Linked DNA regions of Homo sapiens: all the other regions are linked to region 1. The links come from fine-mapping of genetic effects on gene expression. A gene starts in region 1. Each other region holds a variant in brackets. All regions are shown on one strand. Distances are from middle to middle.

Region 1 (4,358 bases):
GAACGTTTTACAAAACTCCCCAGGCGATTATGAGGCATAGCCAGGTTTGCAAACTGCTACTCTAAATCCTTGCTACACATAGGGAAATGATCAGCAAGCTCCTGGGAATCTGTTAGAAACACAGAATGTCAAGTCCCACCCCTGACCTATGGAATCATAATTTGCATTTGAACAAGATCCCCACAGGATTCTCAACTTTGAGAAGCTCTGCTCTACAGTGTTGTCAGACCATGCACTCCACAAATATTTACTGGATTTTCTCTGTATCAGGCTAGGAATTGGGAGGGTCAAGGACCAAGGTCTTTGACTTTGAGAAGTTCACAGAACCATCAGTCAGTCCCCTGCTGTGCCTTCAGACCAAGTCCAGACTTCTGTACTGGACAGCTGGGACTATTTTCCAGCCTTGTCACCAGCTTTCCTGACTAGCACTTGACATAAGAGCCAAGCTGGACCACTGGCCACTTCTCATGGTGAGTCCATGCCTGCCTGCCCACACAGTTGTCACAGCCCAGGCCACACTCTACCCTTCTCTGCCTCAAAAACCCCAGGAGGGATCCTTTGAGGTCCATCACATCACCCTTTCTTAAAATTATCCCAGATTTCCCTGCTCAGATGAAAGACAGGAATTCCCATAACTTTGTTCCTACCGCCTTCATGTCATTGATCTCATTCCACTTACTCTTTTAAAGTCAAAGCGCATCTCCCTTAGCTACCCAGTAAAGAAGGCATCATGGTAAGCAGCTTATCTCTCCAGTAGCAATAAGCTAACAACTGTCACATCACCAAATCTTAAAATAGTATTACTAATAATTGAAATATGTTAAATAAAACATGGATAAATGCAATCAGTGAAAACCTCATCAATCATCCCCATCTCCCACTTCAAATTTATTTAGCTATGAATTTAAGCAAAGTACAAATGGGTTGCCTCTCTTAAGCCAAAGAGAAATAATTTCTAAATTAGATAACACTTACAGCTTTCCATACACCTATAATAATGAAAGACTGAATATGCTGAAGATGAATTATGTCGAAAACCAACTACTTTTCTGTAGTTGACCATTTAACTTCACATAATACACTACAAATTTGAAAACACTTCAGATTTGTATTACAATCAATTAAGGAGGGGTTGAGAAAGGAGAGAGACGAAGAGAAAGACAGGAAGTAGACCAAAATATAGAAAAGGGACACGGATCTATACCAAATATCTGGCTGCTCTAAAAGTAAAAATATAATTAGATTCGTTTTTTAAGAAGATTAAACACTGGCAAGAATGCCTGTCTTAATCCTATCCAAACGCTGGAAGTTCTGTTCTCTTGTTACATAATCTTATTTTCATCCGAGGAAAAACTGCGGGTCTGGAATCTGATGTGATGAGGTGAGGAGGGAGCCCACTTTTAAATAGGACCGTCCCCATCCTGCAGTCTACTGGGACGCGGCGGCTTTAGATTTTAAAAAGTGTGCTGTATTTTTGCACTTACACTACAGAACTGGCTTTAGCCGAGGCCCTGCATCTAGACACACGCTGTGTCCACCAGAGAATTGCCTGGGCTGACAGACCTAAAGCTTCCGCAACCTCCTTAGGCTCCCTAGTCCACGCCGCTGCTCCCCGGGCTGAGCAGGGCTGGGACGCGCCGCACAGAACTCAGGGACCCCACCTCCCTGCGCATCTCCAGGGCCACGCTGGCACCTGCAGGAGTGCGGACTGTCCGCGGATCCCAGGCAGGGTTGGGTGGAGATTCGCAGCCAACCCACAGGAGTTCTGCCCTCCTCCCAGGCTTCTGGCCAGTGGAGTTGGAGAAGGGTCCCCGTCCTCGAGCCTGGGACACGCTCCGGGGCTCACAGAGACACTGACCCACACGTCCCCGTGGTTCGTAGCTCTGGGGGCGCTCCACTCCCTAGGTAATGCTCCCGACGGGGATCCCAACCCCGACCGCGCGGCAAGCCCGGGGTGTGGGGAGAGCCCACTGACCTGGGTACGGGGCCGAGGCTCCTCTCCGGGCGGCTCAGGTGTGCGGGCCGCTCCCGTGTCCCTCCCACCTTCAAACATGAGAGCCCAGAAGCGAGCGACGGGCCACTGGCCCACCGACCAACTGCCGGACCAAGCGCCCGACCAACCAGCGGACCGACCGCAGCGGCCGGGGCCGGCGCCCACGTGACGGGGCGGGGACCTGCGGAAGGCTCTTCCCGGAGCGCCGCGCCCCCACCCCGGGACCTGCCACAGGGACCACCCCCTTGGGCACCCGCTCCCTCTCGGGCACCGAAGAAGCCTGCTGGGACCCGTCCACCAGGGTTCCTGTTCCCGGGGGACCGGCCTGGTCAGCCCCGCCCCTTCGAACCTGCCTCGTCCCCACCCCCTGGGCCGCGCGTCCGGGCCCCAGCCCCGCCTCTCTCGGCGGACCGCGCCCCCTTCCGGGAGCCCCGCCCCGTTCGCCGCGCCTCCTCCTCCGCACAGCTCCGGTTGCGGGGAGGCCCGGGTGGGTACCCGGCGCTCCGGCTCCCAGTCTCCTGGGCTTCTCCAGTCCTTCAGCGCCGTTCTCCGGTCACAGGGAATGAAAGCGAGGAAGAAGGAAACGGTGTCGAGAATTGCGAAGAGAGAAAGCATAGAAAACCCACATTAGAGGCACTCCCAGAGCAGAAACCCTTCGGAGCATCCCGACTTCCTCGGCCCGCGTGCAATCCAGGCAAAATTGAGGTTGTCTCTGAGCCGCCCTCCCTAAGCAGGTCGGAAAGCCCCCGAATCATCCCAGGTCCCGCCGCGCTGCACTCGCAACCTGGGGTGGAGGTCCCTCTAGTGGTTGGCACCAAACAAAAGTTCTGTCTTATGAAGAGCCGAGGTCAGGAAGCATTTCCCTGTGCCCAGCGCCAAGGTCTGGGACCTTAGGTCCAAGAAAAGCGTTGGCAATGTCTGACCACAGGAATGGGTTCTCGAACTGGGGAGGACTGAAGCTGGAGATCTGGTCCAGCCCCTACCTCCAGCGTGTGGCCTGAACCCGTTTTGGTTGTACTGCTATGTTGTGGCCCTGCCCAGGCCTCCAAGGACTGGCTGCTGTTAAGCTGTTTAAAATCCCTGTAGGCCTCAGATGGCAGCGACACCAGGGACTCGGCATAGTCCCCAGCTCTGGCAGGAGTCACCACAGCCCTAGCCTTTAGTTCTCTACAGGCTGGAGTGTCGACAAACTCCACAGGACACAACTTTTTCAAACCAAATTTACCCTCGCGGTCTGAAATGACCAGTAGGCCCAGGAGAATTTTACATGTGAACAGAACCTAACCCACCCTGGCAAATATGAGACGTGTGGTCACTGCGGGAACCTGGCCAGCAGCAGACCAAAGCACAGCCAGCAGGGGAAGGCTGGGGCCCGCAAGAGTTGTGTTACAACAGGACACCCTTCAGTTCTCTTTCACTTCCTTAAAATAGCAGCAGAGCGACTTTTGTAGACGCAGGCTGCCACAGTTCACACAAGGTCATGGCTGTTTCCGAATCCCACCCTTTATTGCCCTAGCGGAGCCACTCCCCTTACCTCCGCCCCCAGAAACTGCTAGCCTGTTCTTAAATTGATACAGTTACCTTTTTAAATGTTCTAAGTCACCGGCTCTGGAGCTTCTTTGCACTTTGGAACCAACTTGCGGGAAGGAACTTTAAAAATACTGATATCTCGATCCATCCCCAGAGGTTCTGATTTAATGGTCTTGGGGATATGGCCACGGCATGAGGACTGTTAAAACTCCGCAGGTGATTCTTATGTGCAACAAAGTTTAAGAACCACTGATGTAGGCCATGTCGATGTCAGTCTTCACTTAAATCCAACAAGACCCCAGAGCTAAAACGTTCACCTGAAAGAAACCCCATTCCCAGGCCTGCATACTGACCTGCGCTGGCTCACAAGAAGCAAAGTGGTCCCTTAACAGGGGCTTCCTGGAGAAAATGTCTTGACCTAAAAGAGTGATTCGAGCTGCAGGGATTTAAGGTAGGTACCAAGGTGAGTTGTTTGGGGCAGATGTGCCCTGCAGAGCTGTCAATCAAATCATATCCCAGGTGGAATCTAGACAGCACATTTCAGGCAACCTCCCCTCTGTGCCTCCAAAGGAACTATGGTTGCAGGACTCACTCCTATTGATAAATCTACCCCACTATCCTCTGTGAGGCAGCCCACATTCCTTCTATCTGTGAAATAGGTAGGTAATAGGGCAGGTAATATCACATTTATTTATTCATACCTGTCTCATTCCACAAAGGATTTGGCCTCTCTGTACCATTCTGTTAGAACTGTGGGTAATTACACTGTATCCATGGGTTGAGTAATTCCCTTCTGCCAAATATCTACTCAAATGCTATGGAAAAAAACATTTTC
Region 2 (4,358 bases), 62 kb before region 1:
GCATCTGCATGCCCCTTCCAAGCTGGACACTTCCTGGTTCTTCTGTCCTTCTGCAGTTACAATGTCAAATCTCTAACCTGTCAGCTGCTTTTGCCCTTCCTGCCTCTGAAAAACACTCAGCCTAAAATCCCTTCGTGTGAAAATAAATTCATACCTATCTTAGCCAATTTAAAGGCAGCCACAAAAGAGGAAACAGCCTGAATTCTAGGAGTATGATGCTACTCCAGCCCCCAACGTCCGTTCATTCCTTGCTCATACCACACACTCAGGTTTATCCTCTAAAGAAAGGGCATGAACAACTTGCAACATAAACCCTCAGCTTCAGAGCATTCAAAGAGAACTCCCTGAAAGCTTTCCTCCGGAAATGCAGAAGCTCATTCTGCTGACAGCAGATGTGTGCTCCACCGGATAACATCAGAGTGAGAACGAGTTAAACAACTTCCGAATCCAATGCATTTAAAAAGGCAGCAGCTTCCTCCCTGTGTCCTCAAACTGAAAAGCGGTGGGCACATTCTTCTGGTCACGGTGTTTGGAGCCTCTGACTGTTTAGGTGCCAAAGTTAAAATAACCAACTTTCCTCACTCCATTCTTGCCTTTCTGTACAGAGGCTCATTCACTAGAATGTCAGTGGAGAAACAAAGACAGCTGACTGTTTTCTCCCTGGTGTCTATAATTAGATTCTCATGAAGAACTTGGCCACAGCAGGGCTTTGCTGGACAATACCTCCCCCTACCACACACAGGCACACACACCCCAAAACACCCCAAAGCGTCTCCCCCTCACTTATCTCCACGGAGACCCAGACAAAGCAGCCAGTCACTTACCCTCTTCAGCCACGAGAAATGCTTGTAAACATCAATGTCCCCATCCATGCTGGGCACCCATGTCAGCAGTTAGATGCCTTGGTGGAAAAAGCCCTTTTCCTGGCTGGAGACCAGTTCTCTCCTCTTCCTTGCCTCTGCCCCCTCCCCCCTCAAGAACTCCAAGCTGTGTTCAAATTTCCCCACTTCCCTGGCCTGCGTCCTTCAGCCTCTCCCTAGACAGTTTCAGACACACAGCGACACAGAGCAGACCGTGCTGCTTCAGTGTCCTCCCCGACCACCCCAACAAACACACACACACACACACACACACACACACACGCACATACATGCACGCACACGCACCAGGACTGGGATTCAGAGCCCTGCGGAGAAATCAAATGTCACACAAAGGTAGAGAAAAAAGAAAGAAGACTTGGACAGAAGTTGTAAACATGACACACACGCACACACACACGGGACCATTCTCAGTGATAATACCGGAGCCTGCCAGAGGGAAACAGTCCTGAAGAAAATTCCTTGTCTGGCTTCCCCCTTCTGGAGTGGCTGGAACTCATTACTGAGAGCCCCGATTTCCTGTCTCTGCTTCACTCTGCATTTACCCAGGGCTCCCAGCTGCTCTCAGTTTATTTGGGACTGGGGAGAAGACTAAAAATAAGTGCTGCTCTTGGAGGAGCTCACTGGTTCCCACACACAGCCTGACCCCCGCCCTGAAGCCCACGCCCACCCATTTTCCAGGCGAGTGACGGGCTGTGCCCTGAGGAAAGCCTGTTGTTTCCAAAAAAAAGCAGCTCCAGTCTGGGTTCTTGGTCCTGCTGTGCGACGGGCCCAGCACAGAGCGTTTGCTGTCCTTGGCACTGGTGGTACCATCCATTAGAGACCAACTGCCGCAAACTCAGGGGAGTCTGGCCCTGGACTGTTGGCCACCAGCCAGGGCACCCTGGGGGCCACATTCTGAACAGGGGCCAGGGCTGGAGGGTCCTGCCTCTCTGGCTGTCCCCCACTCTGGGCTACCTGCTTTACAAACCAAGGAGGTGGAAAGGTTGAGGCTGCTTCACGTGCATTTCCATGAGACTCAGGGAGCAGTGCTGGGTAGACAGGGGCCTTGGAAAGGCTGGCGGAGACCTGGAGCTGCAGCTGTTTTCCTCCTTTCAGGGCAGGTCACATGCAGGCTCTCCAGGTGGCCCCTCCAGCACTCCCTAGATGCCACCCCCCACCTCCTCCTATTCCCATCTCCTTTGAGAGCTCCCCACTAAAAACAGCTTTTCTCCCTTCCCCAGCCCTTAATGTGTGGCCTTTGGCTATGGCTGATTATCAAAGTGACCTTTGATGTGGGTGCGGTGGGAACTGTGGTTACACGGTGGGAA[C/G]TGTGGTTACACGCAAGGCCCCGAGCTCTGCTGTGGCAAAGGACTTGCAGATGCACAGCTTGTGACTGCCTGGGCCTTCCCAGTTCCCTTGGGGGTCACCTCCGGGGTTTCCTGGAACTCCCAGTCTGAAGAGCAGTCCTTCATGCCCCTCATGCCGCATGCCCCTCAGCATGGCTTCAATGTCCACCAGGGCCAGAAGCAGGGCCCAAAAGGGGAGAAACAATGCCTGGCAGCACAGTCCCCGGCAGGCTGGGCCAGCCCACAGAGATCACAGAGGCGGCAAGGAGGAGAGCTCTAGCCAGCAGCTGGCATAAGGGGAGGAGTAAATTCCTGGAGACACACCCAGACAGAGGCCAGAAAGGAAAAGCAGGCTTTGCTGCCCATGCGCTGAGCTCTAGCCCCTTGCTCCTCACCTCTGGCCCTGCTCCACAGCACAGTGTGACCCACCCAGCCCAGGTTCCCTGCCCGTGCTATGGCAGGATGTTGCCAAGGAAGAACATCTCTAAAGGTACAGGGGTCAGTAGGTTGGTTTTTCTCTGTCTAAAAGCCTGAACAAGTCAAATGAAGAAATTCATCCAGTCAATACACATTTTCCCCGCATCCAAGGCAAATGAAAAACTTCATGCCCTGGGTTAAGAATTATCATATGGTATGCAATAAAGGTATATCTGGGACTCCAAGGAAGAGGAGGTAGACAAGCTGATTTGGGAGCTGGACAGGGAGAGGTGGCGCAAGGTTCCAGCCTCTACAGGATGGTGGAAAATTCTCCCCTCTCCTGGGAGGAGTGCAGTGCTCTTCCTTAGGTTCTGGTACAAGAGAGGAGAAAAGAGAAAAGAGAAAGGTGGCCAATGTGGCTGCTCTCATCAGCCTTGCTCACTCCCAGCTTACATAGAGCTGTGGCTCAGGTGTCCCTCTTCTATCCCTTCCTGAGCACCTAAATTCCCCTCTCTACTTCATCACTGACCTTGTCACACTGGACCACTCCTATTGCACCAGACTGTCAGAAGTGTGTCTGATTTCCAACTCACTTCTCCTACTTCCATGCCTACAATTCTTAGCACACAGTACGAATTTAAACATTTTTTGGATGAAAGAATAAGGCTCAAATGATAAGACTGGTAAAGTAAGACTAAAATTCTATGTGAAGGAAAGAGACTTGAAGGTCCGTTTCTCCAGGGTAAAGATGTTCGACACAAAAAGGAAAAGACGGGGCCCATTTCCTCTGTTAGCTCAACTCAATGTGTGATGAACAAAGGTGGGGGGTGCAGGGTAGGGGAGAGAAAGGGACAGAAAAGGGAGGAAGGGAGGGAAGAATCCAGATAAACTGCAGCTAAATTCTTGACATTTTTATGGCATTCTCAAGTAGCAAGTCTTATCTCAGCCTTGTTTTTCCTTAAACACCAAGTACATTTTACTTACGTTGTAATTCAACTCAAAAATCACAAATTAACACCCCAAAAGACCTAGGAGCAGGTTGGCAGGAGGGAAAGGGGAAGGGCTGAGTGAAATGGGATGGATTCAGAAGCTAAGGCACCTCCTCGCTCACTCACCCCACCCCCAGGGGCAGCTGGGTCCCTGTCGTGGCTCCCTCATCACACTGGCCTGGCAAGGCAAACCCATGGCTGCACCACTGCCCTAGAAGTCCATCCTGTCCAGGGCACCTCACTTGATTTACAGATGGGATTCCAGGGATCAGATGAGCCCCTAAATATGTTCGTCAAATATATAGAAAGTACTACTATTTGTATTCATAAATCTTTATCTGAAAAAGAGTTGTCAGATTATCAGAACAGTCCATGACTCCCAAAAGGCTAGAAGCCCAGCTTTTAATTGGCCGAGGTAGTTACTCCCAAAGGTCTAGGCTCCCCTTGTTATTGGGAGCTCGGGGGCCTGGGCTTGCTGCTCCCATTATACTGCTCCTGTGAGGTGGTGTCTCAGACTCACTGGACCCCTCTCTGAAGACAGAAGTCCTCAGGAAGCACAAAGGGTACACAAATACGGGTCACTACAGTGACCTAACAGTCCCGAAGGCCTTCCTGGAAGTACTTTGCTCATCTACAAACAGATTCATTACTGCCTGCAACATGCAGCAGCCAGCTGTGGGAAAAGGGCAGGAGACTGTGAGGCTGAGCATTCTGGGAGTAAAAACACAGCTAAGAGGCCAGGGTGG
Region 3 (4,358 bases), 25 kb before region 1:
AACCGGTTACCCTCCTCCGAACAGCCCTCCCCATTCACTCTGCACTGAAGATTCACCTATCTCGTGGTCCTCAAACTTTGCTGTTAATCAGAACCACCCTGAGAACTAATCAAGCAAGAGGCCCAGCCTCCTGTAAGTAGAGAGCCTGACCTTTATGGCTGATCTAGCCATTCGGGTGATTCTGATTCTGACCAAAGTTGAGGAACTGATGGAATGCAAACACAGCCCTGCACCAGGCACCCTTTTGCTTAGACAGCCTCAGGGGCTGGCCACCAGCCACACAGTAGAAATCATGGTCTATCATCATATGGACTCAACCTACTTGGTCACGGCTTTAACTTTTACCATACATACCTTTTGGCAGACCTCTGCCCCATCCTCACCAGATGCCTTATCACTAAGGCATCTGATCCTAATTGTTAGTTAATTGGCTGTCTGCACTGCTTTCCAGCTTTTATGCCCATGCCTACAGCTGTCCCTGCTAAATTCCCATCAAGCCAGCTCTTCCAGGTAATCATACTTAATTCTGACTACCTAAATGGGATCTCCCTGATCATCTTTTTTCATCCTGAAGGAAAGGAATGACAGCAGCTGTGCACAGCCATCTCCCTGAAAACTGTGCCACGTGTCTGGGTCCCTGTGGGGTCCCCCATTCTGTAAGCACTGGATAAGTGTTTACAGATTTATTGATAAAATAACCAATTCATTGTCCATGGGAAGCTAAAGCCTGGGAGATAGTGGGGACTGGAGTGAGGTTGCAGCATGTTCCCCTACAACAGCCCCAAACTCTTCCCATCCTGAGCACCCACCTCCCTCTCTATATTCTCACAATGGGTGGGACCCAAATGCTTCCCATCCCACCTTGGTGATGCCCCCATGGTCACCAAGATAAAAACCTGGGAGTCAGCCTTGGACCTTCCCTTTTGTTACCCACATCCAACTGGGCACCAGATCCGGTAAAATCTCCTCCCTCTCTTTCAGATCTGTCCCCTCATCTTCACCTGCCCTGCCGTCATCTCCCATCAGAGTGGCTGCACTGGCTTCCTAACCAGTTTCTCTGCCTCCAGCCTCACCGCCCCCCCACACCCCTCATCCTCCACACTGCTGCCAGGAGGGTGGGTCTATTTCACAAATCTTACCAAGGCTTCCCAGCATTCACAACGCTTCACCAGCTTTCTATCACTCAGGCAACAAAGGGGTGCTTGGGGACCTGGAGACGAAGTTAAGGACCCACAGAGCAGTTAGGAGAGTGGGTTCTGTAGTCAGACCTGCATGTAGATCCAAGTTCTTTCCTTCATGAGCTGTGCCCCGACAAGCTCTTTAACATTAATGAACCTCATTTTACCTATTTATAAAATTCAGGTGAAAAGAGACACATTGTGGGACTGTAGAGATTCAAAACTGGGTGGGAGTTCACAACCCCAGCAGTTTTAATTCTCCTGGCCATATCTGGCTCCTGCCCTGAGCAACAGCCAAGCTATTGTCCCCAGCTTGCTTCTGCTTTTGGGGCTTCTTCAGTGTTTTAGCTGAAGTCCTTCGTTCTACCTGCTCAACTCCCACTCCTGTTTTGAGGCCAAATTCCATCATCATTATCTCCAAGGATCCTCTCCCATCCATCCCCCAGATGGAAGTGACTACTTCTGACTGGGTCCCCCTCGCCACTCCCAGGACAGACTTCTCCAGGGCACTTTTGTCTAAGTGGTAAGGCCCTCACAGGCAGGGCCATATCTCTGACCCCGGAGCTCAGCTCCCATTCTAAAAGGGAGAAAATGAAAGGAAATAAAGAGGTCACCGGTCTACACTGGCAAGGCTCTCAGCGTAGCAGTTCAAGTTGTCCCCACCTTCTGCCCAGGGCCACAAGCTGTACCTGTCCTCCACAGGTCCTATAACATCCAGAGGTCACGACCCCCACAGGATCAGATCTGACAGTGGAGAGGAGAAGCCGCACACCTGGCCTGCGAAGACAGCTCCTCAGAGCAATGGCAGAGCCCACAGACACTGGCTTTATATCACAATGAGGGACAAGGCCATTGTGCTAAATTTCCCTCAGGACAGAGGAGCCCAACACAGCGAGATATCCTGTCAGGACAAAGAGGAGCCATAGCAGGACAGAGGGGCCAGGCTGCTGAGAACGTTGCTATCAGAGTTGCTGAATGCCTTCAGTGAATATCGGAGTCTAATAAAAGTGAAGAGGCAGAGCTTTGTTTTGTTTTGTCAATGAATAGAAGCTTAAGTAGCCTAAAAGAAGCTGAAGAGGAGAAAATAGAAGAATGCCACTGAAGGTGAACAAGCATGCTTAACTGGTCCCCATCTAATCATAGTATCAGTAACTCCTAAGAGCAAACATTTGTTCAAAGCTTTACAG[C/G]AACAAAAATATTTGGCGCATACAAGGTTCCTTGTTTCAACCTAAACATCCTAGATCAGGCTGTTCTGATTAGTCAGTTAAGCTCAGGCCAGTGGGGGCTGAGATCTATCAGAACTGCAGAAAGGGCCCTGAATCTAGACACAGGCTGGCAGTGCTGGGTGGTGGCAGGGGATGAATGCAATATTTCTTGCTTAGCGTCTTTTTCCCGCTATACCAGGTTAGTGAGTTTTATGCACCGGGTATTCCCAGCCACTCCCTGTCAGGCGAGGTCCAGGATATCCTTAAGAACATTTGTGCTGGAGCCTAGTTCTGCTGAACCCACTGGAAGGATTCCTTTTGCTTTCTGGTCCTTCCACTGAAGACACAGCCCAAGTCCTGTCACATGTCCCTGCTCCACCACCAGCCTCCTTTGGCAGAGCCAAGCCCAGATGCTTCCACTTAAGCATTCCCAAAAAGCTCGAGCCCTTCTCACCAAACCACAGCCCTTTAAGCAAGGCTCCATGACCCCAAACAGCATTTCCAGCAACATATCACAACAGCAGGGCATTCAGTCAGAAAGCTGCACACTGTCCTCTAAAGAAGGCAAAGAGCAGCAACAGGCACTGAGACCTCACCTCCGGGTGCCCCGAAGTCAGACTCCCTCTGAGCCTAGCTGTCCCACAGTCTCAGCAGCGACATCCTCCTCCTACTGGAAATGGCAAGCTTTTTAAGAGAAACACCACCCCAAAGACATGAGAATGAGACACCACGAGCCCAGCCCACAAGGAGGAGCGCAGGGTCTGGCCAGGAAACGGGTGTGAGTCTGAGGTTCTGATGGCTCACACCCAAAAGCACATCTGACCTTCTGGGCTTCAGGAACACTAAGAAGCTGATGTCAAGTTTCCTTCACCGTATTTGCTTGATGTTGTTGAATGCTCGCTTCACCCTCCTCTGACTCTTCTCACCTATTTCTGCTCTCGATATTCTGCCTTTGTTCCCCTCTCTCTCCAAGCTGATCCTTTTCCCAACTCAAGCACTGATTAGGGTAAACCAGCCACAACCAAGGCCATGCCTTAATGCCAGGTCTGTCAGAGAATGGTTTGGGGAGATGCCAAAGGTCAAACAGTGCAGGTACTCCAACAAGGAGAGGGATTGGGGAGTGGGGAGCGGGGAGGGCAGGGAAGCGAGGCAGGGATCTGTGCCTTTGGGAAGAATTGAGATGGGGAGCCAGACAGCATCCAGGGAGCAGAGCATCACCAAACCCCATCAGTGTGCCCTTCAATACTGTAAGACAAGTATATCAGTGCCCTCATGGGGATAGGGCCCACCGTAGCCACTTAGAGAACTTTCGGAGAGGAGGCTCTTTCCCTTCCTTCTGAACCGCTCAGAAAGAGTGGGTCTAAGAAGTAAACGTAAATGAGAGTCTATCTTTCAAGGCTAAGATGTGAAGAGCCAGGACTAGGCAACAGATAACTCACACGTTCTAAGATTTGGCTGCCTGCCCTGGCCACACAGCCATTCACAATAGATCAAGATGATGGTGAATTATTTCGAGCCTGTGCAATATCCACCTGTGTGTAAAAACCACCTGCTCTGGGAGTTCACAGGTTTCCTGTCTCCTTTGAGAAGCTGCTGCCTCTGTGGGGGGGAAAAAAAGTGTCCTCATTTTTGTTTTCTCATTTAATCTTCAAGGGGGTCCTGTGAGGGATATAGTACAATTATCAGCCCTGTTTTACAAAGATGTAGCTCAGTGGCCAGAGAGCAGGGGAATAGTGACAGCGAATGAAGCTGCCCCAGCTTGAGAAGGGTCTCTCACCTGTCACCCCTAGAACATGGCCTGTAGCCATTAGGCAATGACAACCACTGAGGGAGCCACCTAGAAGCCACCCACTCTTCCCAGCAATAACGTAGGAGGAGGAGGCGGGGACCTGAAGGAAGGATCCTTCTCAAGGAGCTCAAGGATCTCTCTGGATTCCCCTCCCCAAGTATAACCATGGTCTGCCAGCCTGTCCCT
Region 4 (4,358 bases), 39 kb before region 1:
TCTTAACTATTCCTCCTCAGTGAGTACTGCTTGTACATAACTGCATGAGTAACCTCATGCAGAGCCAAGAGGAGTAAGTGGCCTTCTGTGTCCTGACCACGTGGCTCTCTGGTCCCCTGCCAGAAGTGGCCTGACAAAGTAGCCACTGAACCTGTCAGTTCACAAATTAAGCTCCATGCAAAATTAGTGTCTGTGGCAGTTGCTCTAGGCCATCCAGAGGGAGGTAATTAAGCAATATAGAGTTCAATTTCAATTGTCAACAGTGTAATTCAATTACAGTGAATTTGCAAGCAGAATCACAGGGACTAATCAGGAGGAAGACTAGATCAAAGGTTAACATCCTACTGGAAACTATAATAATGGTCTTTCATATTAGAACCAAGTCATTATTGACAAAGATCCTAGAGTCTTTAACAGCCACCCTTTCCCAACTTTCTGATATAAAATACTGAGGTCCCAATCTAGTATAGACCCAATCTAGTCTAGTCTAGTCTAGTCTAGTCTAGTCACCTGGGATTCAGCCATTCAGATTTCAAGAATTCAACTTTACAAGGAGTTTCATTTAATAGTCCTGCTTACAAGGCATTTCTTTTTGCATTTACAAGAACCAATTTCTCTCTCTCACACCTCCCAACATTGACCACCTGAGACAAAGGCCATCGCACCGTGGCTCTGGAGGGGCATATTTACCACTTGCGCATTAGGATGTCCTCTCAGAGTACTCCTGGTCTGATTGTTTACAGGAGTGATAATCATCCCGCACTGTTTGCACTGTTTTAGTTGATGCAGGAGGAGACAGACTTTTTTTTGCACTAAAAGCTTAATTACATAAACATTGATATCACATGCCCAAAGTGCACTCTTTTTAGAAGGAGTTTTGGAAAGTAAACAGTAACCCAGCCTACTGTAATTAGTAAGAGGCAATTCCTTGTTACATAGTATATGATTACTAGTGATCACTGAATACAGTACATCCATTTTAGTAGGAATCTGTGTTGTTTCTGTGTAAGTGGTTACTATTTGGGAGGTCCAGGAAGCCCATAAAGGTTTTTTCCGTTGAAATACGTGGTAACTGTGAGAAAATACATTCTTTGGGTACTTGAGTACTTTGATGGAAAAGCAGTTGTGTTTTGGCAGTGGTGGTGGCACTACTTGACATCATGCAATCTAAAATTAATAAGAGAACATAAATAAAGAGAGGAAGATTTAAATGTTCACACAAAAATGTCATTTCTGCAAGATCTGTGGTGTGGTGCCAGTTTTCAAACTTCTTTAGCTGTGCCACCCTTAAGCAAAGGAACCCTTGCTTAGAAGAAATAACGTAAGAGAGACAAGAACAAAACCACTCTGGCTTAGGGATTGTGAGCAAGAGCAGAAAAGTATCCTTCCCTCAGTTAATTCTTTTCTCCTACAGACAGCCCCATGCATCAACATAAAAACCAGCCCAGGAATAAAAGGAGCCTGGAAGAGACTCAGATGGCCCTGGAATCAAATCTCAGCACTATGATCTTGGGGGGTAAAAATAATTTAATACTAATATCAATAAAACAAATAACTTACATCAATTAAGCACTTTCTAGGTGCCTTATCTGCATTAATTCAACCCTCACAATAATATGAGACAGGTACTATTATTACTGCTATTTTATCGATAAGTAAATTGAGGCTCAGAAGAATTAAGCAATTTGTCCAAAGATCCCACAGCCAGCACTAAATGGCTGAGCTGGGATTCAAACCCCTACAGTCCAACTCTGTAGTCCATGTTAATAACCACAAAAATTCTTAACCTCTTTGGCCCAATTTGGTTCAGCCATCCTAATGCCATCATAAAAATGAGGAAAAGTGTCCTCAGCAATCTTGAGAAAAAGTAACCTGAACAAGGCATTCAAAAGAATGATCATTCTTTTTATCAAGAATAGCATAGAAAACATGCCCTCCAGATACTCACTAGTAACCTCAGTGTTGAATAATCTGTCAAATAGCTCCTGTCAAATATCTGTGTGAGCCAGTTACTACTTCAGGGATGGTTCA[T/C]GGGACATACAAACTACTAGTCTTCAAAAAAAATAATAATAATTTGTTATTCCAAAAGAATCAGTGAAACAAGGGTGAAAATAGAGAAAATAAATGAAGTTCAGTATGCAGCCAGATAGAAGATGTATACAGAAACCTATATGTATACCTCCTAACCAATGAAAAGGAGATCCTAGTCACAAAAGCAAATGAAAAAAAAACATCTAGCATGTATTAAATGCTTATTAACTAAAATGCCTAAAACCACCAATTATGGCACTGGAGATACAGTGGCAGAGCCTCTGTCCTTAAGAAACTTACATGCTGGTGCAGGAGGCAGACAATAAACAAAGAGGCAAATATGAATGTGATAGGTCAGGTGATAAGTGCTATAAAGAAGTATAAACAAGATACAAGAACAGAGTTATGTGGGAATGCATGATAGACACAGTCAGGGAAGGCCTTCCGGTACGGTAACATTTCAGCATAAGCCTAGATCTGGAGGAGGGCATTCCAGGAGAGGGGGGGGCAAGCTCATGGTTAAAGTGAGATACACCCTGGGAACGTAAAAGGGATGCATAAAGGGCCACGAAAGCCAAGCCATGCTAAGACCTTGCTGGCCGTGGTAAGGGCTTTAAACTTTATCCTGAGATGGGAAGCCATTGAGGAGTTTTGGAGAGAGGAGTGATATGACTTAATTTACATTTTCAGGTTTACTCTACAGCTCTGTGGGAAACAGTCTATAAGGGAGCAAGAACAGATGCAGAGAGCAATCAGAAGACCACGTATTAAATCTGCAGACCCTGGGCAAATCCAGCAATGGATGCACAAGCCTTATACAATGAAAACCACAAAACTCAGATGGGAGAAATAAGAGCTTTAATAAATAGAATACTACCCCGTCCCCAGAAAAGATTCAACATGATGAAGATTATTTTTAGTCCCTCATTAATCTATCAAGAGCTAACATTTTATAGTGCTTACTATGTGCCAGGCACTGTTCTAAGCACCTTACGCATGTCAACACAGGCAACTCTCTAAGATGGGTATTACTATTCTCATTTCTAATATGAGGAAACTGAGGCACAGACCATGTAAGTAACTTGTTGTAGAGCTAGGTTTTCAAACAAGTAGTCTGGCTACAGGTATTCCTCCCTACCAATCTGCAAAGAACCAATTTGCAAAGAATGCCTTCTCTCTACAAAACTCTCATACCTGTTCCAGACAGAAAAGCCCAGGAGCCCTTCTAGATAGAACCTTCCAAGATGGAGGACTAAGGAAATGGAAGGATAGAGCAGTTTGTACTGGAAGATCAGAAGATTAGGTCTCCTGGGTTTCACACAACCCACACTTAGGGCCCCTCTCTCCACACACATCCCAGATTCTCAACTGCAGATCCTGGGTCAAGGCAAGGCCTTAAGGATCCAGCCACATAATGTCTCTCAGAGACAAAATGAATTTTGCCAGAGGCTCTGTCATTTCAGGAATGCCTGTATGGAGAAATCAGGAGTCAGAAAGAGGTACTGACCCCACACAAGGCTACTTTTCTTTAGAAGTCTGATTCATCTCTCAAAAATTCAATATTGTGAAAGTGTCAGTTCTTCCCAACATGATCTAAGTTAAATGCAATTGCAATCAAAATCCCAGAAAGTTACTTTGTGATCAAAAAACTGACTCTAAATTTTATACGAAGAGGCAAAAGGTAGCCAACACAACACTGAAGAACAAAGTTGGAGGACTGACAGTACCCAACTTCAAGACTTACTAAAGCTACAGTAATCAACACAGTGTGGTATTGGTGAAAGAAAAAATAAATCCATGAAACAGAATACAGAGTTCAGAAATAGACCTGAATATATATCACAAAAATATAATCAAATGACCTTTGACAAAGCAGCAGAGATAATACGTAGAGAAAAGATAGTATTTTCATCCCTCCCTGACAACCATCAAAGAGGTCTGCCAGGGACTCGCTCAGTCTCCCCTTTGCTCTTTGGCTGAAGGCTCTGAAGTGATGACTGCCTCAGGCATTCTCAGGGAATGATCCTGTAGCTATTATCCCAATGCACGTGAGACCCCGAGGAGCTCACAGGTCAGTATCTCTAAAAGGATTGCTAGGAAATCCACTTTCTTGACTCTTTCTCCTCAATAAGGCATCAGAGACCCTAACCTAGAACAGGACATCTGTATTCCAGAGGGACAGAACTAATAGGAGATAGATATCTATAGATATCTATATCTATAGATATAGATATAAAGGGGAGTTTATTAAGTACTATTAACTCACACGACCACAAGGTCCCACAATAGGCCGTCTGCAAACTGAGGAGCAGGGAAGCCAGTCTGAG
Region 5 (4,358 bases), 76 kb before region 1:
ATAGAAAAGAGAGGAAAGGGAGAGGATGTGAAATGTCAGAGGAGAGGCAGAATCTTACAAATGTCCCAAGCAGAGAAAGGAGGTGTCACTTTCTTGGGTGTGTCTGACCTGGTTGTGGGCAGACAGGAGAGAAGGAGCTAATGTCACCAAGCTGGCCCCAACACCTCCTTCCTCCATGCAAATGGAAGACTGAAATCAGACTGGTCTGCAATAGGCCACCCAGAGGCTTGGCAGTTTGAAAAAGTAGATCTGATTGCTAAATGTGGAACTGAGTATTATACAATCTGAGCTGGTCCAGTGAAATCAGCACTTCAATATTCACGAGGGAGGTGTCTACCACCCTAGAGGAAAGTCTTAATTGTGCAAAGAGGCAGATGTGAGAGACCCAGAGTTGGGCCACCTTGTCCTAGGCCATTTCCCCACATTTCAACTTTTAGCATGGGCTCTCCCACCACCCTCCATGAGAAAAGGCACCTCCTTCCTCCCCTCATCCCACCCCTTCCCAATGCACTGCATAGGTGAGGGAGGCAACAGAGCCATGCCCAGTCCTAGAACAGAAATGTGGACCAAGCATACCGCATTCAAACCCTGGATGCGCACTAGTGAAAGATTCATTGATTGTTTGTTGAAGGTGCAGCCAGAGGACAGGCCCAGGGGCCACTCCCCAGGCCAGCTGTGCCAGGCAGCACCTGCTGCCACACCACTGTCTTCTGCTCCAGCCCCTCTGGAGCCTATGTCTTGTTCATTGTTATGGAAGCTCTTTCATGCCACAGACAAAGAACCTTAACAATCACAACTGACTTCTTTGTTAATGGCAGTTTATTGTTGTTAAATTAATATTCCGGTTCTCACATGATCAAATTCTCTGACTAGAATCCAAGAATATATTATAATCTATATTTTCTCAGAACCAGAGAAGAAAAGGTAGGAGAATAATTCTTAATAGCAGGTCAACTTCTTCTCTGTCAAAGAACTCACATGATGGTGATTTCCAGTGGACAGAGAATTAAACAGGACCCAGGTGTCCAAGTGAAGCTCTGCAGGTAGAACCCCAGTGCCGAAGTCCACATGGACACGGAGCCACCTAGCACTGGCAGCCGCCCATTCTCTGGCAGGAAATGAAGGAGAGAAGACCAAAGGCAAGACTTCTTCCAGAGACTCCAGCAAGCCACTGTACCAACTATGCCTTATTCAAATGGTGTGCAGTATATTCTTCATTATAATAAAAGGTCTACCCATACAATCACCCAGAGAGGTAACTATTTTTACTAGTTGACAAAAAAAAGAGTAAGAAAGTTGAAATCATAAATTCAGTTAATAAAATGTATGACCTAGATTCTATAGCACATGCTAGAAGGGGGATCAAAAATCTAGATCCACGCTAGCAGCCAGTAAAAAAAGAGAGGCACAATCAGTTAACAGGATCCGCAGATCAGTATGGTAAAATCAAATCAATTGCCTAGGAGAAGCATAATTATTCCGGAGCAAGGGAGAAACTTCACGTTTTCATAGACAGATTTTGTGTGATGGGATCAGCAATATCCATGACACCCTTATAGTAAACAGAGCCCAGTAGAACTCATTACTTTTGTGTGATGTTCTCAGAATAGTTCAGAGGCTAGTGGACAATATGGGCCAAAGGTGAAAGCAATTCCATGGAGACTAATATAATATGGTCCAGGCACAGTGCTGTAAATACACAGCAAGCACCTTGTGCTCAACATGTGCCAGGCACTGTTCAGAGCACTTTGACATAATGTTTGAGTTTCTTACAAAATGTTTCTATTGAGTAATTAAAATATATTTGAAAATCTAGAAGCACTGTTAGAGGACCTAGAACAGTGGTTCCTCATATTTGCCCCTCCTATAACAGATTCGAGGAGCCAACTCCTTTCCTAGCAGGCATACTGGTCCATACAGCAGTGGTGTGCATGGCAGACAGGTCCCTCCCCCACCCCAATCACTGTTCTAGAGGAACAGTGCATCTTCCTCTTCTACAGGTCCTTCAAAATCACCGTTCTCCAGCAAGCTTTTTAAAGGTAAACAGCAGTGAAAGATAATGTTCCAGATGGAAACCCACAGTATCACTATCCTTTGCTTTTGATGAAGTCAGAGCCATGTGTTTTCATGATCTATATAGGACTAGGATGTTAAAAAAAACTGCGTTCTTCAGAAGGGCATAGGCCAGGATCAAATGCCACCTCTGCCTGGAGAAAAACTTGGAAAGCATCTGAGAACAGGGCCAAGAAGAGGATTGTCTTGCTGAATGCTAATACTCATCAGCCTAAGGTAAGGATTTGCCTTTGGGTGAATCTGTATATTCTGTATTCTTATAACCTGGCAACAGGTTCAATCACGTTCTGGTATCATTCTTGCATTATAAAATGACTACATCATCAAGGCATAATAAGCTTTGTGGTTATCAAAATGGGATTCCAATTTATTGAGAAAAATATTTTAAAAGACTGAGTTAGGACACATCTCTGTTTTGCTCTACTTTAAAGACAGCTTGCTTGGTCAACAAGTATACCTGCTTCTTTAATAGTGGAATTGCAAATAGAAGGCTTGGATGGATAGTGGATCCCTGCATGATTCCAGGTTTGAGGTGTCTCTGAAAAGTCTTGTCCATGTTCCTGATTAGGTAAGTCAG[C/T]GATAGAGCAGTTGCCCAGCTCTCCACGCATGAAGTCAGGTTGCAAAAACCATGCCCACATTTCACAGAGAAGAAAGTCCAATCAAATTCTGAAGGATGCTACGTGCTAATTTTCTGAGGTTTTTTTTTTTTTGGGAGGGGGTTGTTCTTTTTGAGACAGAGTCTTGTTCTGTCACCAGGCTGGAGTGCAGTGGTGCGATCTAGGCTCACTGCAACCTCTGCCTCCTGGGTTCAAGCGATCCTCCTGCCTCAGCCTCTTGAGTAGCTGGGTCTACAGGCATGCACCACCATGCCCAGCTAATTTTTTGTATTTTTGGTAGAGATGGGGTTTCACCACGTTGGCCAGGATAGTCTCAATCTCTTGACCTTGTGATCTGCCCACCTTGGCCTCCCAAAGTGCTGAGATTACAGGCATGAGCCACCGTGCCTGGCCTACATGCTAATTTTCTATTGTTCCCCACTGTGGGATGGCAAGTGACTATAAAGGAGAGTATCATCCACCCCCGTTATACTTGTTAAGGATGCTCAATCCACAGATGAATATAAGAAAGAGCTAATTTTTACTCAACCAATGACATTAGCCACTAGGCTAGACCTGCCAATGGTAAGCTGTGTTACATATATTTGATCAAACTTCCTCCCCCTCTGTTCTGATGGTTATTGCTACAAATGTGACAGGGAAAAGTCAATCTTCTCATTCAAATTTTCAGACCATTCATTCAAATGGTCAGAGCTATTTCTGATACTGTAATTCAGGTTAGTTACCTAAAAATATAGTGAGAACCATGTGATCTGTGTGCCCTGTGGAGAACTGTTAACTCCAGACATTTCCACATCCTCTTCAATTTTGACTAAAGAATGCCACAGTGAAACATACTACCTCTCCTATATCACGGAACTGAATCAAGACAAGGGCTTCTCGAATGGATATTTTTAAGAACTCAGCACCCTTAGTCAAGATCATTGAAGCCAAGCCACCTTTGTGTCTATCAAGTGTTGCTCTCAAGAGGCTGAAAAAAGTCTTGGACACAAGGAATTCATCCTCTAAAATTCAGACCTCGCGGAGGCAAATATAAAACACAGCACAGAGTTGTCATATCAAGGTCTTCCCTAGGCCTTGGGAGTAATATTCCAGAGTGTCTTCAGAAACAGTGACAACACACCTCCTTGATTCTTACAGGTTATCCTAGGGTCTGTTTCTGTAAGACCCAAACTGCTACCACTGCCGTGGCTGGGCAAGCCTAATGTGCAGCTTGAGCAATTAACAGCCTAAGGTGTGGGTATTTTCTAAGCCATCCCTAACTGAGAGGGGCCTCAGGAAAATGTATCAGCTGTGCAGGGTATTCTATGGTTGGGATCCTGGAGTTGATCATGATAGTCAATCAGCCTCAGCAGGGAGAGGACAGAGAGAGAACTGTGAGTAGCCAGGAGGGAGAGGACTGACTGACCAGCAAGATTCCAGCAGGGATAGTTAAGTCCCCACATAAGGGGCAGTTTGGACCGTACAATGATACTAGCCTAACCTAAACCAGGTCCTGTCCCTACCTCTCCCATCCCTCCCCTTGGTCACTGAGTAAGAAATTTACTCTTGATAAGTTCCTCATGCACAGAGAGCTGGTTGCTGGCATACTCAAAGAAATCAAGATTTCTGCACCTTGGAGAACATTGCATTTTAGGGATGAGATTTTTCAGGGGATATGTCAGGTCC
Region 6 (4,358 bases), 81 kb before region 1:
AGCGGTCCAAACTTCATGGAAACTAACCAATGACCTTACCTCTCTCATAAGGGTGTGAGGACTGCTCACCTATCAGGTGAGTGTTTTGATGCAATTAAGGAATGTGGGCTGTAAAGGGCATGTATTAGCACTGACAAAACTTGGCTCCAGAAAGGTTATTGTGCTTCACAGGCCAAAACATGACTCTAAGTCATAAATATAGAGAAGCCACATTACACATACGGTGGCAGAAAAAAAGTCATCTTTCTGAAGAACGCTGAGAATCCCTATTAAAAATATTAATTAGTAAAAACTCATTTACAGGAAGTCATTCAAATTATGCACTAACTATATATTAACAATGGTTTTCATAGCCTTCTCTATTAGCAAACGGCCCCAGGATCCTTTTTCTTTATTAAGAGATGGTTCAAAGCAAGAAGAGAGAGAATGAGTGTCCTCCCCAAAGTGAAGAAATTAGCAGTTGATAAACTGAGATCCTTTAGACCTTTTTGGTTAGAGTTGTTGCCATTTACATATAGATTATCCAGAATTATTTCTCAGTCTGAAATGGAATAATAGATGGTGCATGAGTTGATGTGAATTCATTTATGAGTGTTTAGATAAACTTTCTGAATTATAAAGCGCCTGTTTAAAAAGGAACTAATCTAAATTAATATGCCTACTTTAAGATCTCCATTTTTATTTTCCCAAATGATTAATGAATTATTGAAACATATTCCTGGAGTTGACACATGGTTAACATTCCACTTTTAACCAAAAAAAATGTTAAAAAAAAAAAAAAAAACAAGAACGGGCTCTTTCTATCAACTTGGTCCACCTTACACGCAAACCTTTGTGGGTGGGTGTTTATTAATCCCTGTGGCCCAACACTCTCAGCCATCCTGAACTAACTCTACTTTCAAAAGGGCAGGACTCTGGGGGTGGGCTTTGCTCACTGGAATCCAGAGTTTCTGTTTGTGAAGGATGTTTTCTGGTTAATCTTATTATGAGGGTTAAACATTTCTATGGTCTATACCATGCCTTGAGGCCATGTGTTGGTGATACTCAAGGAATCATAGGATCTCTAGCATTCTATAGCTAATTGTTCAGCTCCAGGGGCTTTCTGAACCTCAACGCTGATTCTAAGTATTACAAATGAAGGGATGTAGGAAATCCAGACAAAATACATAAAGGTCATAAAATGTGACCTTTGTTCACTAAAAACAACTATTTTTGAGACCCTAATAGATGCTAGGCATAATTTTAGGTACTGGAGGATACAGAAGTTAAAAAAAAAAAAAAAGGATAAAAATCCTTTTCCTAAGGAGTTACATTATAATGAAGATACAAGAGATTCTGGTTTTGTTTTTAACTAATCCTAGAAACAAAGTATTTTGTTATGTGTGATTTGCCTTGTTCTATGAGTAGAACCAGGAAAACTTTCTGGGCCAAGGACTCTAAATTAATTCAGTCTGGCTAAGCTGCTGTGTGCATTAAGCAAGAGGCTCTACCCTGCTGAGAATCTGCCTAACCAGCTCCACTGCAGAACAGCAGTGATCACTTAACAGACACTCCTGGAGTCTGCCCATAAGCTCCCAGTAGAGTAGAAACTACTAGGGTCAACTTCTGACTTTACTGGCAAGCAGCTTCCCAATTGTGTTAGGATTATTTAAATGGGGATTATTCAAGAATTTGGAATTTTAGAAAACTATGAATGTGAAAGGGAGCATTATTACACAGGACTTTGAAAAATTAAATTGTAATCCTCTGTAAATAGGAATGTGCTATTTCAATCATGAAGGGTCCTGGTTCAAAAGTTTGCAATTTCATACTGTTTGCTGCAAAATCTTACATTGGATACTCTTTCATTAATCATGTCATTGGGATAAGAGTTTCAAATTACACATCCCTCAAACATCTGTGCTACAATGTGCTATTCAATCTGGCCCTTGCTACCTTTCTAAAGGCAGCTCGCACCACCCTTTTGAGCACAGACTGCAGGCACAATGGCCACTTGCTGTTCTTCCCACACCCCAAGCACACTCTTGCCTCAGTGTGTGGGCTGGACTGACTGCCTGCTCTGCCTGGAATGCACTTCTCCAGGTATCTGCATGGCTCCCTCCTTGGCTTCCTCCTGTAAAGGAGATCTTCCTTTTACTACACAATCCTCATCCTGCTTTACTTTTTTCCAGCGTTCTTACCAGCACCTGAAATAGTTAATGTATTGGCTTATT[G/A]TCAATTCACACTCTCCTTTTTCTTTTTTTTTTTTTTTTTTTTTGAGATGGAGTCTCGCTCTGTTGCCCAGGCTGGAGCACAGTGATGCGATGTTGGCTCACTGCAACCTCCACCTCCTGGGTTCAATCAATTCTCCTACGTCAGCCTTCCGAGTAGCTGGGATTACAGGCACCCATCACCATGCCTGGCTTATTTTTGTATTTTCAGTAGAGACAGGGTTTCACCATGCTGGTCAAGCTGGTCTCCAACTCCTAACCTCAGGTGATTCACCTGCCTCAGCCTCCCAAAGTGCTGGGATTACAGGCACCCATCACCATGCCTGGCTTATTTTTGTATTTTCAGTAGAGACAGGGTTTCACCATGCTGGTCAAGCTGGTCTCCAACTCCTAACCTCAGGTGATTCACCTGCCTCAGCCTCCCAAAGTGCTGGGATTACAGGCATGAGCCACTGCACCTGGCCCACTCTCTCTCTTTCAAATGGAAGATCCACAAGAATGGGAATTTAGTCTGCTTCTTTCACTGCTTTATCCCAGCATCTAAAACCAGCATCTCACAAGTTGTAGATACCCAATTATTTTATAATGAAGAAATCAATGAAGTGAAGAAAAATACAAAACTGGAATGTAAAACTATATATTTGGTATGAGCTCAGTTATTTACAATAGAGGCAAAAGAAAAAAAACCAACAACACTGGAAAAAAGGCCGAAGTGTTAACCTGCTTCTTCACATTTTTAGAATTTTAAAGGTTTTTAAAATCATTCATTACCCTTATGTTCATAAAATACAATGAAAGAGTAAAATAAGTAAGGTAAAAAGAGAAAAAACAAACACACTGCCACCTCATAACCTTAGTGCTCCAAGCTAAAGCCCATAGCCTGGGGTGGGTTCCAGGCCCCGCTCAACCCCTCCCTTCATTCTACCACCAGTCTAACTCATCACCCTTTAAGCTTTTAAGGAGCTGGGATTAGGATACTAGCCTTTATATTTTCCAAATCACTAATTAATATCTGATGCATACCAGACCTTGAGTAAATGCTTGCTTAATCAATTTATATTTTCAAGAGCTAACACAGCAAAGTGCTGGGCCTGCTTCTTCAACAGCCTTCTTATGAGAATACCTAACTCTATGTCCTACCAAGGCACACAAACTTTCAACAGCGAAAAAGCTCCCTTGATGATCTTTCTCCGTAAAAGGTTTTGGAGCTCCTCTCTTTCAAGCAAGACAGCTATCAAAGGCTTAGCCCCTGTTACCAGCTCCAGGGGATTTGGCATTAAAGGGATCAGTCTAGATCCAGCTTCAGACAATTTGGACTTGATTCATTAGCATTCACCCTTAGGCCTGTATCACCCACAGCTCTGTTTTATTAGTGGCATGAGGATATATCTCCCCTCCCTCGCAAGACTCAGGAGCTTCTGGGGGACAGGGCCCATTTTGTTCATTCTTAGCACCTGGAAATCAGCCTGGTCATGGGGCTGCCAGTGTATAGAAGCGGGTGCTTGGGAGTGCATGATAAATGAATGACTGAATTCACAGCCCCCCTAAGCCAAGTCTAGAGTTAAATTGTCCCCTCAGTTACTTAATGTTTTATTTCAGGAAAAGTCTTTTCTAAAAACATAGGCATTGGAAGGAGAAAAATTCCAACAGAGAAAATCTCTTGGGCTTCCCTTCCACTTAGGGGAAGCTACATAGTAGGAGGTAACAGGATAAGCCGATTCTCACCAAAAAGTACCCACCTGCAATATGAGGGACTCCTTATCCCCTTCTAGACGTGCCAAGCGTTCCTGGTAGGTTTCATTACTAGCAGCACTGTGGTGGTTTACCTGGGACTAAAGAGGACAGAAAAAAAAGAATACACTTAAAAGGTTGGAAAAACATCTTACCAACTTCTAAATGAAATAAGGGATGCATGTAATTTGTGAGGATAGTTTCACTGATTATATGTACAAAACCAATCATCAAAACAGGAAACCACAAGATTTCAAAACTACCATGAGGAGAACCAGATCACATGCCACTGAAAAGTGCGCCCTGGAAGTTGGCACAACCACCTCCTGGATGACCTCACTCCTGGCCAGGAGGGCCTCTGTGAAACTCTAGGCCCAGCAGTGCTTGACTTGACATGCTGGGTCTGGGTTAGCCAGA
Region 7 (4,358 bases), 150 kb before region 1:
ATGCGATCAACTGGAAGAAAGGGTATCAGTGATGGAAGATGAAATAAAAGAAATGAAGCGAGAAGGGAAGTTTAGAGAAAAAAGAATAAAAAGAAATGAACAAAGCCTCCAAGAAATATGGGACTATGTGAAAAGACCAAATCTATGTCTGATTGGTGGACCTGAATGTGATGGGGAGAATGGAACCAAGTTGGAGAACACTCTGCAGGATATTATCCAGGAGAACTTCCCCAATCTAGCAAGGCAGGCCAACGTTCAGATTCAGGAAATACAGAGAACGCCAGAAAGATACTCCTCGAGAAGAGCAACTCCAAGACACATAATTGTCAGATTCACCAAAGTTGAAACGAAGGAAAAAATGTTAAGGGCAGCCAGAGAGAAAGGTCGGGTTACCCTCAAAGGGAAGCCCATCAGACTAACAGCGGATCTCTCAGCAGAAACCCTACAAGCCAGAAGAGAGTGGGGGCCAATATTCAACATTCTTAAAGAAAAGAATTTTCAACCCAGAATTTCACATCCAGCCAAACTAAGCTTCATAAGTGAAGGAGAAATAAAACACTTTACAGACAAGCAAATGCTGAGAGATTTTGTCACCACTAGGCCTGCCCTAAAAGAGCTCCTGAAGGAAGTGCTAAACATGGAAAGGAACAACCGGTACCAGTCGCTGCAAAATCATGCCACAATGTAAAGACCATCAAGACTAGGAAGAAACTGCATCAACTAACGAGCAAAATAACCAGCTAACATCATAATGACAGGATCAAATTCACACATAACAATATTAACTTTAAATGTAAATGGACTAAATGCTCCAATTAAAAGACACAGACTGGCAAACTGGATAAAGAGTCAAGACCCATCAGTGTGCTGTATTCAGGAAACCCATCTCACGTGCAGAGACACACATAGGCTCAAAATAAAAGGATGGAGGAAGATCTACCAAGCAAATGGAAAACAAAAAAAGGCAGGGGTTGCAACCCTAGTCTCTGATAAAACAGACTTTAAACCAACAAAGATCAAAAGAGACAAAGAAGGCCATTACATAATGGTAAAGGGATCAATTCAACAAGAGGAGCTAACTATCCTAAATATATATGCACCCAATACAGGAGCACCCAGATTCATAAAGCAAGTCCTGAGTGACCTACAAAGAGACTTAGACTCCCACGCATTAATAATGGGAGACTTTAACACCCCACTGTCAACATTAGACAGATAAACGAGACAAAGTCAACAAAGGATACGCAGGAATTGAACTCAGCTCTGCACCAAGTGGACCTAATAGACATCTACAGAACTCTCCACCCCAAATCAAGAGAATATACATATTTTTCAGCACCACACCACACCTATTCCAAAATTGACCACATAGTTGGAAGTAAAGCTCTCCTCAGCAAATGTAAAAGAACAGAAATTATAACAAACTATCTCTCAGACCACAGTGCAATCAAACTAGAACTCAGGATTAAGAATCTCACTCAAAACCACCCGACTGCATGGAAACTGAACAACCTGCTCCTGAATGACTACTTGGAACATAACGAAATGAAGGCAGAAATAAAGATGTTCTTTGAAACCAACGAGAACAGAGACACAACATACCAGAATCTCTGGGACACATTCAAAGCAGTGTGTAGAGGGAAATTTATAGCACTAAATGCCCACAAGAGAAAGCAGGAAAGATCCAAAATTGACACCCT[G/A]ACATCACAATTAAAAGAACTAGAAAAGCAAGAGCAAACATATTCAAAAGCTAGCAGAAGGCAAGAAATAACTAAAATCAGAGCAGAACTGAAGGAAATAGAGACACAAAAAACCCTTCAAAAAATTAATGAATCCAGGAGCTGGTTTTTTGAAAGGATTAACAAAATTGATAGACTGCTAGCAAAACTAATAAAGAAAAAAAGAGAGAAGAATCAAATAGACACAATAAAAAATGATACAGGGGATATCACCACCGATCCCACAGAAATACAAACTACCATCAGAGCATACTACAAACACCTCTACGCAAATAAACTAGAAAATCTAGAAGAAATGGATAAATTCCTCGACACATACACTCTCCCAACACTAAACCAGGAAGAAGTTGAATCTCTGAATGCACCAATAACAGGATCTGAAATTGTGGCAATAATCAATAGCTTACCAACCAAAAAGAGTCCAGGACCAGATGGATTCACAGCCGAATTCTACCAGAGGTACAAGGAGGAACTGGTACCATTCCTTCTGAAACTATTCCAATCAATAGAAAAAGAGGGAATCCTCCCTAACTCATTTTATGAGGCCAGCATCATTCTGATACCAAAACCTGGCAGAGACACAACAAAAAAAGAGAATTTTAGACCAATATCCTTGATGAACATTGATGCAAAAATCCTCAATAAAATACTGGCAAAACGAATCCAGCAGCACATCAAAAAGCTTATTCACCATGATCAAGTGGGCTTCATCCCTGGGATGCAAGGCTGGTTTAATAGACGCAAATCAATAAATGTAATCCAGCATATAAACAGAGCCAAGGACAAAAACCACGATTATCTCAATAGATGCAGAAAAAGCCTTTGACAAAATTCAACAACCCTTCATGCTAAAAACTCTCAATAAATTAGGTATTGATGGGACGTATTTCAAAATAATAAGAGCTATCTATGACAAACCCACAGCCAATATCATACTGAATGGGCAAAAACTGGAAGCATTCCCTTTGAAAACGGGCACAAGACAGGGATGCCCTCTCTCACCACTCCTATTCAACACAGTGTTGGAAGTTCTGGCCAGGGCAATTAGGCAGGAGAAGGAAATAAAAGGTATTCAATTAGGAAAAGAGGAAGTCAAATTGTCCCTGTTTGCAGATGACATGATTGTATATCTAGAAAACCCCATTGTCTCAGCCCAAAATCTCCTTCAGCTGATAAGCAACTTCAGCAAAGTCTCAGGATACAAAATCAATGTACAAAAATCACAAGCATTCTTATATACCAACAACAGACAAACAGAGAGCCAAATCATGAGTGAATTCCCATTCACAATTGCTTCAAAGAGAATAAAATACCTAGGAATCCAACTTACAAGGGATGTGAAGGACCTCTTCAAGGAGAACTACAAACCACTGCTCAAGGAAATAAAAGAGGATACAAACAAATGGAAGAACATTCCATGCTCATGGGTAGGAAGAATCAATATCGTCAAAATGGCCATACTGCCCAAGGTAATTTACAGATTCAATGCCATCCCCATCAAGCTACCAATGCCTTTCTTCACAGAATTGGAAAAAACTACTTTAAAGTTCATATGGAACCAAAAAAGAGCCCACATTGCCAAGTCAATCCTAAGCCAAAAGAACAAAGCTGGAGGCATCACACTACCTGACTTCAAACTATACTACAAGGCTACAGTAACCAAAACAGCATGGTACTGGTACCAAAACAGAGATATAGATCAATGGAACAGAACAACAGAGCCCTCAGAAATAACGCCACATATCTACAACTATCTGATCTTTGACAAACCTGAGAAAAACAAGCAATGGGGAAAGGATTCCCTATTTAATAAATGGTGCTGGGAAAACTGGCTAGCCATATGTAGAAAGCTGAAACTGGATCCCTTCCTTACACCTTATACAAAAATCAATTCAAGATGGATTAAAGACTTAAAGGTTAGACCTAAAACCATAAAAACCCTAGAAGAAAACCTAGGCATTACCATTCAGGACATAGGCATGGGCAAGGACTTCATGTCTAAAACACCAAAAGCAATGGCAACAAAAGACAAAATTGACAAATGGGATCTAATTAAACTAAAGAGCTTCTGCACAGCAAAAGGAAACTACCATCAGAGTGAACAGGCAACCTACAAAATGGGAGAAAATTTTCGCAACCTACTCATCTGACAAAGGGCTAATATCCAGAATCTACAATGAACTCCAACAAATTTACAAGAAAAAAACAACCCCATCAAAAAGTGGGCAAAGGACATGAACAGACACTTCTCAAAAGAAGACATTTATGCAGCCAAAAAACACATGAAAAAATGCTCATCATCACTGGCCATCAGAGAAATGCAAATCAAAACCACAATGAGATACCATCTCACACCAGTTAGAATGGCAATCATTAAAAAGTCAGGAAACAACAGGTGCTGGAGAGGATGTGGAGAAATAGGAACACTTTTACACTGTTGGTGGGACTGTAAACTAGTTCAACCATTGTGGAAGTCAGTGTGGCGATTCCTCAGGGATCTAGAACTGGAAATACCATTTGACCCAGCCATCCCATTACTGGGTATATACCCAAAGGACTATAAATCATGCTGCTATAAAGACACATGCACACGTATGTTTATTGCAGCATTATTCACAA

Which allele goes with the higher level. Alleles are on the strand shown, and positions count from the first base shown. SD is a standard deviation of normalised expression in the study named. Not every link is listed here.
In carriers of allele A in region 6, the expression in neutrophils of the gene that starts at base 2,098 in region 1 tends to be higher than with G alone (large effect, 0.81 SD a copy in CEDAR).

Evidence for each region. PIP is the estimated chance that this variant, and not a neighbour inherited with it, causes the effect. A credible set is the group of variants that fine-mapping cannot tell apart.
Region 2: its variant is the best candidate, but not a certain one, in a credible set for the expression of PPFIBP2 in whole blood (TOPMed, PIP 0.61).
Region 3: its variant is the best candidate, but not a certain one, in a credible set for the expression of PPFIBP2 in esophagus mucosa (GTEx, PIP 0.51).
Region 4: its variant is the best candidate, but not a certain one, in a credible set for the expression of PPFIBP2 in whole blood (INTERVAL, PIP 0.55).
Region 5: its variant is the best candidate, but not a certain one, in a credible set for the expression of PPFIBP2 in aorta (GTEx, PIP 0.65).
Region 6: its variant is the best candidate, but not a certain one, in a credible set for the expression of PPFIBP2 in neutrophils (CEDAR, PIP 0.81).
Region 7: its variant is the best candidate, but not a certain one, in a credible set for the expression of PPFIBP2 in esophagus mucosa (GTEx, PIP 0.79).

What each region holds. Positions count from the first base shown.
Region 1 is chr11:7,511,739-7,516,096 of GRCh38, reverse strand. PPFIBP2 (PPFIB scaffold protein 2) reads right to left here and starts at 2,098. Exons shown (of 24, transcript NM_003621.5): 1 at 1,976-2,098. LOC124902806 (leucine-rich repeat extensin-like protein 5) reads left to right here. Exons shown (of 4, transcript XM_047428005.1): 2 at 1,492-1,979; 3 at 2,057-3,974. The coding sequence ends at 2,887. RefSeq lists a silencer at 2,003-2,532 and an enhancer at 3,203-3,322.
Region 2 is chr11:7,574,105-7,578,462 of GRCh38, reverse strand. All of the region lies in intron 3 of PPFIBP2 (PPFIB scaffold protein 2), which reads right to left. All of the region lies in intron 3 of LOC105376535 (a long non-coding RNA gene), which reads left to right. Among named protein-coding and RNA genes, the nearest start is that of PPFIBP2, 62 kb to the right of the region's middle. RefSeq lists enhancers at 141-220, 2,944-3,767, 3,768-4,358 and a silencer at 291-525. The variant C/G (reference allele first, on the strand shown) is at 2,189.
Region 3 is chr11:7,536,975-7,541,332 of GRCh38, reverse strand. The region is part of intron 1 of PPFIBP2 (PPFIB scaffold protein 2); the gene reads right to left. LOC124902806 (leucine-rich repeat extensin-like protein 5) reads left to right here and starts at 2,794. Exons shown (of 4, transcript XM_047428005.1): 1 at 2,794-2,995. The coding sequence starts at 2,794. The variant C/G (reference allele first, on the strand shown) is at 2,366.
Region 4 is chr11:7,550,936-7,555,293 of GRCh38, reverse strand. All of the region lies in intron 2 of PPFIBP2 (PPFIB scaffold protein 2), which reads right to left. Among named protein-coding and RNA genes, the nearest start is that of PPFIBP2, 39 kb to the right of the region's middle. The variant T/C (reference allele first, on the strand shown) is at 2,032.
Region 5 is chr11:7,588,037-7,592,394 of GRCh38, reverse strand. The region is part of intron 3 of PPFIBP2 (PPFIB scaffold protein 2); the gene reads right to left. LOC105376535 (a long non-coding RNA gene) reads left to right here. Exons shown (of 4, transcript XR_007062579.1): 2 at 2,001-2,289. Among named protein-coding and RNA genes, the nearest start is that of PPFIBP2, 76 kb to the right of the region's middle. The variant C/T (reference allele first, on the strand shown) is at 2,651.
Region 6 is chr11:7,592,816-7,597,173 of GRCh38, reverse strand. PPFIBP2 (PPFIB scaffold protein 2) reads right to left here. Exons shown (of 24, transcript NM_003621.5): 4 at 3,950-4,042. It overlaps LOC105376535 (a long non-coding RNA gene), which reads left to right. Exons shown (of 4, transcript XR_007062579.1): 1 at 1-76. Among named protein-coding and RNA genes, the nearest start is that of CYB5R2, 79 kb to the left of the region's middle. The variant G/A (reference allele first, on the strand shown) is at 2,214.
Region 7 is chr11:7,658,582-7,662,939 of GRCh38, reverse strand. It overlaps a transcript of PPFIBP2 not described here. Among named protein-coding and RNA genes, the nearest start is that of CYB5R2, 13 kb to the left of the region's middle. The variant G/A (reference allele first, on the strand shown) is at 1,701.